Linked DNA regions of Homo sapiens. The protein of the gene in region 2 interacts with the protein of the main gene of each other region in a pairwise test. Each region holds a gene or a part of one and is shown on either strand. Other genes may lie near its edges.

The links.
Region 1: the proteins of VGLL3 (region 2) and ZNF34 interact in a two-hybrid assay, tested with the Homo sapiens proteins (one large-scale study listed by BioGRID).

What each region holds. Positions count from the first base shown.
Region 1 is NC_000008.11:144,771,505-144,774,584, reverse strand, and holds the end of ZNF34 (zinc finger protein 34), read left to right. Parts: coding exon 1-1,319; 3' UTR 1,320-2,361; downstream 2,362-3,080. UniProt on the Homo sapiens protein: May be involved in transcriptional regulation.
Region 2 is NC_000003.12:86,977,435-86,981,217, reverse strand, and holds part of VGLL3 (transcription cofactor vestigial-like protein 3), read left to right. Parts: intron 1-2,415; coding exon 2,416-2,692; intron 2,693-3,783. UniProt on the Homo sapiens protein: May act as a specific coactivator for the mammalian TEFs.

The DNA.
Region 1 (3,080 bases), on a different chromosome or scaffold from region 2:
ACAAGGAGTTGACTTCACAGGAGACATTTGGTGAGGAAGATCCCCAGGGATCTGAGCCAGTAGAAGCCTGTGACCACATCAGTAAGTCAGAGGGGAGCCTGGAAAAGCTAGTGGAGCAGAGAGGCCCCAGGGCAGTCACACTGACCAACGGGGAGAGCAGCAGGGAGTCTGGGGGAAACCTCAGGTTGCTGTCAAGACCTGTTCCTGATCAGAGACCTCACAAATGTGATATATGTGAGCAAAGTTTTGAACAGAGATCATATCTCAACAACCATAAGCGTGTACACAGGTCAAAAAAAACAAATACAGTTCGTAACTCTGGGGAAATCTTCAGTGCAAACTTAGTTGTTAAAGAAGATCAGAAAATTCCTACTGGGAAAAAATTGCATTATTGCAGTTACTGTGGGAAAACATTCAGGTACAGTGCCAACCTTGTCAAGCATCAGCGGCTTCACACTGAAGAGAAGCCCTACAAATGTGATGAGTGTGGGAAAGCCTTCAGCCAGAGCTGCGAGTTCATCAATCACCGAAGGATGCACTCAGGAGAGATTCCCTACCGGTGTGACGAGTGTGGGAAGACATTCACCCGGAGGCCCAACCTCATGAAGCACCAGAGGATTCACACTGGGGAGAAACCCTACAAGTGTGGGGAGTGTGGGAAGCACTTTAGCGCCTACTCTTCCCTGATTTATCACCAGAGAATCCACACCGGAGAGAAACCCTATAAATGTAATGACTGCGGGAAAGCCTTCAGTGATGGCTCAATCCTTATCCGACATCGTCGGACTCACACCGGAGAGAAGCCATTTGAGTGCAAGGAATGTGGCAAAGGCTTTACACAAAGTTCTAACCTTATCCAACATCAGAGAATTCACACTGGAGAGAAACCCTATAAATGTAATGAATGTGAGAAAGCTTTCATTCAAAAAACCAAACTCGTGGAACATCAGAGAAGCCACACTGGAGAGAAGCCCTATGAATGCAATGACTGTGGCAAAGTTTTCAGCCAAAGCACACACCTCATCCAGCACCAGAGAATCCACACAGGAGAGAAGCCCTACAAGTGCAGCGAGTGTGGGAAGGCCTTCCACAACAGTTCCAGACTCATCCACCACCAGAGGCTGCACCACGGAGAGAAACCCTACAGATGCAGCGATTGCAAGAAAGCCTTCAGCCAGAGCACGTACTTGATTCAGCACCGGAGGATCCACACCGGGGAGAAGCCCTACAAGTGCAGCGAGTGTGGGAAGGCCTTCCGGCACAGTTCCAACATGTGTCAGCATCAGCGGATTCACCTCCGGGAGGACTTCTCCATGTAACAGTGGCGCGGTGTCCGAGGGCAGAGTCCAGCTGAGCACTTCCTGCATGCGCCCCCGGCACCTGACTCTGCCCTTTATGTATTATCCACACGATGTTTTCACAGAGTGAAAGGACGTTTCTCATTAAACAAACCTCTTTTCTTAAATCAAAAGCAGTGCATGTTCATTTTAGAGAAATTGAGACAGAAAAGTGGGCAAAAAAGAAGCTTCTGTGATCTCTCCCACTTAGAAAAAAAATTCATTGCTGCTGATTTACGAATATTTTCGAGACATACTGGAGAGCATTTTAAAAAGAAAATACCGTAATGCTTGTCATTGCAGCACCTAGGATCTTCACTTTTGCTATTTCCTCAATATCAGAAAATTCACACTGAAGAGAGCACCATATATTTTAACATTTTTACATATTGTAAATTTAAAAGCATCGGCCAGGTGTGGTGGCTCATGCCTGTAATACCAGCATTTTGAGAGGCCAAGGTGGGTGGATCACTTGAGGTCAGGAGTTTGAGACCAGCCTGGCCAACATGGTGAAACCCCGTCTCTACTAAAAATACAAAAATTAGCCAGGTGTGGTGGTGGGTGCCTGTAATCCCAGCTACTCGGGAGGCTGAGGCAGGAGCATTGCTTGAACCTGGGAGGCGGAGGTTGCAGTGAGCCAAGACTGTGCCACTGTACTCCAGCCTGGGTGACAGAGCGAGACGCTGTCTCAAAAAATAAATGAAACAAACTTAACATTCATACTTTTTATGTCAATAGAGTTGAAGTTGCCTTTAACTGTGGTGAAATAACATAATATGAAATTTACAATTTTAACCATTTTTAAGTGTACAATTCAGTGGCATTAAGTACATTCATGGTGTTGTGTAACCATCATCACTGTGTATTTCCAGAACTGTTTTATTACTCCAAACAGAAACCCTGTACCTATTAAATAATAACTCTTCATTTCCCCCTTCTCCCTACTGCTGGTAACCTCAATTCTATTTTCTGTCTCTTTGAATTTGCCTATTCTAGGAACATAAATATGTGTGGAATCATGCAATCTGTGTTTCTTTCTATGTCTGGCTTAGTTCATTCAGCATAATGTTTTCAAGGTTTCTCTGTGTTGTTTCCTGTTTCAGAACTCCATTACTTTTTTTTTTTTTGAGACCGGGTCTTACTCACCCAGGCTGGAGTGCAATGGCATGATCTTGGCTCTGCAACTTCACCCTCCCAGGTTCAAGCAACTCTTTCACCTCACCCTCTTGAGTAGCTGGGACCATAGGCGCATGCCACTGTGCCTGGCTAATTTTTGTATTTTTTGGTAGAGATGGGGTTTCACCACGTTGCTCAGGCTGGTTTCAAACTCCTGTCCTCAAGTGATCCACCCACCTTGGCCTCCCAAAGTGCTGGGATTGCAGGCATGAGCCACTGTGCCTGGCCTCTGTTACTTTTAGTTTTTTTAGATGGAGTCTAACTCTGTCGCCAGGCTGGAGTGCAGTGGTGCGATCTCAGCTCACTGCAACCTCCACCTTCCGGGTTCAAGCGATTCTCCTGCCTGAGCCTCCCGAGTAGCTGGGACTACAGGCACGCAGTACCACACCCAGCTAATTTTTTATTTTTAGTAGAGACGGGGTTTCACCATGTTGGCCAGGATGGTCTTGATCTCTTGACCTTGTGATCCACCCGCCTCAGTCTTCCAAAGTGCTGGGATGATAGGCGTGAGCCACTGCGCCCGGCTTCCATTACTTTTTATAACCAAGTAATATTATGTCGTATGTA
Region 2 (3,783 bases):
ATTTTAAAATTGATATTTTATGATTGCTACTATTGATAAGAATACTATTTGACGTTTGTATCAGGATTCATGGCCTTCAAATCCTTTACATATATATAACTTCAATTTTATTTCATCTAAGAATTAATTGCTGTCAATTAAGGATAAAATAAAACTTTGACTTTATTTGGATTGTTAATGTAGCCAGGCTCTTCTATTTAAAGAATGAATGTTACAATTAAACAAATAAAGCATTTATATGCAAAGCCCCACTCTCACAAACTGATGCTGAGCTGGACATTAACAGAAAAAAGAAATTAGTTTCACGGATAAGAATGAACACTTGTGGACAATGATGCCACCATGTAGATAGGTTTTAGGGTTTTTTTTTTTCATAGAAAAACAGAGCTGCTTTCTAATGTGCCCGAATATTCAGCAGAGAGTGTGTGCATATGGTTAAAACAATACATGTTTTAGGTAAATACACATGCACCCGAAGAAGCAGCACTGTGATTTGACTAATAAATCATAATATTCATTTAATTTTTTAATGGAATTTAAAACTAGGAATAGTTTTAGAGGTTATTTAGTTCGATTCCCTCATTTTACACATACCATATGTTTCTATGGTGTTTATACTATTGAAGTTAAATATAAACATGTTCAAATCTGTGCAGAGGTAGATTATGAGAAATAAAAGCAATCATCTATTCATCAGCAAGGCACATTCACTTACAAAGTATGAATTATCTATTCATCAACAAATCATAACCATACTGATACGAATTTTAAATAAAAGCAAAACACATATTTATAAATAACCATCCTGAAACGATAACTAGAAGTTCATAGTATTTCTGAATATTTCAGTACTCACCTTATACAAGAACAACATATTCACTGCTAGGGGAAAGGGACCAATTTATTGAATGGTGCATTTATAATTTGAAGCTATAGATATTGAAGCTAGTAATTACATTAGAAATATAGAGTCTGGGGTATGTATTTTGCTAACATTTGAAAAATTACTGGGTATTCTGGAGTGATTTATCTATTTCTACTCACATTCATTTTCCAGCATGCGTTTTTTTCAAAGTAAAAAAAAAAAAAAGGTATGATCAAGGATCAGGTTTTGCAGACATAAAGATGACAGAGAAAGCTCATTTCGTCACTAGAATAATACATTTCATATCTTTAGCATTATCTCCTTATATGTAATTCGCATTGAAGTTGATAATAAATGGAATATGTGCTCAGTGAAAAATGTTTGGAAATACTGAAAAGCAGAAATAAGAAAATGACAATTAACTATAAACGTATTACACAGAAAAACAATACAAAATACATTTTTGTAATTTTTTTACTCTAGATATCCCTCCCTGCCTTTCCCCACCAAATGTATGCACACGCATATCTATATGCTAGATATCCCTCCCTGCCATTCCTCAGAACATATATATGCACACACATGTCTATACCTGTATGTTTTTCTTATGCATTCTGACTCTGCAGCTTACATGATTTGTGACTTTTGGCAAGTAACTTAATTTTTCTGTGCTTTAGCTTTTTAATCTTTACAATATGGATAGTATTAATAGCCATGTTATAGAATTGTAAAGATTAAGTGAGGTGATAAATATAAAGTTTTAGAAACATGTCTGAAATAATGTATATTATTATTAGAATTATATTTTTAAACATTTTAAATTAACAAATCTTTCTCATTTTTAATTGAAAGATTAACCCACTACTAGTATTTTGTAATATTTTCACTAAGCCATAATGAAATCTTTTCCCCTCATGATAATGGTGGTAAACGGAACATCTAAAAAATATGTTCCATGCAAAATGCATCTTCACACAGACTTATTTTGCCATTTTAGTTTGATTTTTGAAGACATGAGTTCAGCACATCTGCCAAATCCTTTTATAAGATGCTACATTCCTGTTTTTATTTTAGTTTATTTTATTTATGAAAAGTTCTTTTCTTCTCCACTCCACCCCCAGACAGTCATTCCTCTCTGTCCTAAACCATAACACTGCTGTACATTGCATTTTTAAAAATAAACCAAAACTGGGAAGAAAAACTTTTTAAAAAAGTAATTCTCCTGTTGGCCTAGCTAGATGAAAAAACAAAAAGCAAAACAAAAACAAAAGCAAAAACAAAATCTTGTATTGAAAATATACTATTTGATAATGGGCTTTTATGTTCGTTTGCCAAATGTAGAATCACAGAGTTTTTGTTGTATTTTTTTTAGTGTGGGAAGGAGGCAACTGGTTTGGGGAGGAAAAAGATGGAGTAAAACAGATGAAGAAGAATCAGTTTGCAAACATATGTTAATATTTAGATTCTTTTTTTAAAAAAGTGAAAACTTAACTAGTGAATGCTTTTCTACAAACTGTCTTTGATACTGTGTTTTGTTTATTCCATCCCAGAAGAAGTTAGCGGTATTCAGCAAGATGCAGGACTCTCTGGAAGTCACCCTTCCCAGCAAACAAGAGGAGGAGGATGAGGAGGAGGAGGAGGAGGAGAAAGACCAGCCTGCCGAGATGGAGTACCTTAACTCTCGCTGTGTCCTTTTCACTTATTTCCAGGGAGACATTGGGTCAGTAGTGGATGAACACTTCTCAAGAGCTTTGGGCCAAGCCATCACCCTCCATCCAGAATCTGCCATTTCAAAAAGCAAGATGGGGCTAACCCCCCTATGGCGAGGTAAGAATTCAAAAGCAGATGTTCTCCAGGGCACTGTCTTTGTTTCGCAACTGCCTGTACCAGGTTCCAGCTGGAGACTTGCCCCTGAGGATGGATATCCACTTGCTTTTTAATATTTAAGGACAGTGAGGAATTTCTTTCAGACAAACAGCTGGATCGGTTTTGTCACATGTGGAATGTAGGGTTGGAAAGGATGCAGTCACACCCCTTAAATTCCTCATGGAAAGTAGTGATACAACCGGCTTGAGTTTATAGTGGCTGCACTGAGCTGCGAAGTACCATTCCTAAAGCCCCAGTGGCCCAATTTGGATCTCTAAATAATAGGCGTGTCTAAATCAGCTTTTAAAAAATTAGCTCTTGCTCATTCCAATAGGTGCTATGTGGTGACATACCAGAGACCTGAGTCTGACCCAGGAATACAGACATTGAAAGCTGTCTGTGTTCTTTGAATAGGCTTCTTTATCCTGATTTGTTATTGTATTAACTCTTTATAGTATACACTCTAGGCATTTTGGCAGCATCCACATGGCTTAAACTAGTGTTTTTACCTTGATAAAGAAAGAGCAGCACATTGGACTCCTTTATTTCTCTCTGTATCGAGCTCACAGAGATGTGTTTGAAACTGATTTCTGACTCATAGAAAATTATTGGTGACATCTAAATCAGGGTAATTACAGGGTTAGATAAAAACATAATACGTCATTCCAATGACAGCTTCAGAGAAATTTGCTACAGTGGTGATTTCTTCCAAATTCACCTGGTTATAGGAATGATCTAGTAAAATGGTTCTCGAGGTGTGATTTTCCTGACCAGGAACATCAGTGCCACATGGGAGCTTGTTAGAAGTGCGAATTCTTGGGCTCCACCCCAGACCTGCAGAATCAGAAGCTCTGGGGTGGGGCAATCTGTGTTTTAACCAGCCCTCCCAGTGACTCCAGTGCAGAGTTTGATAATCATTGATCTAGTCCTGTTAAGGACAGTTTGCAGGACCCCCTTATCTCGAATCTATTGAACTAGAATCTTCATAGGAAGGTGTGGGAATCACACTTTAACAAGGGCTCTGGGTAATTCCTATCATGAGGAAAAGCTGG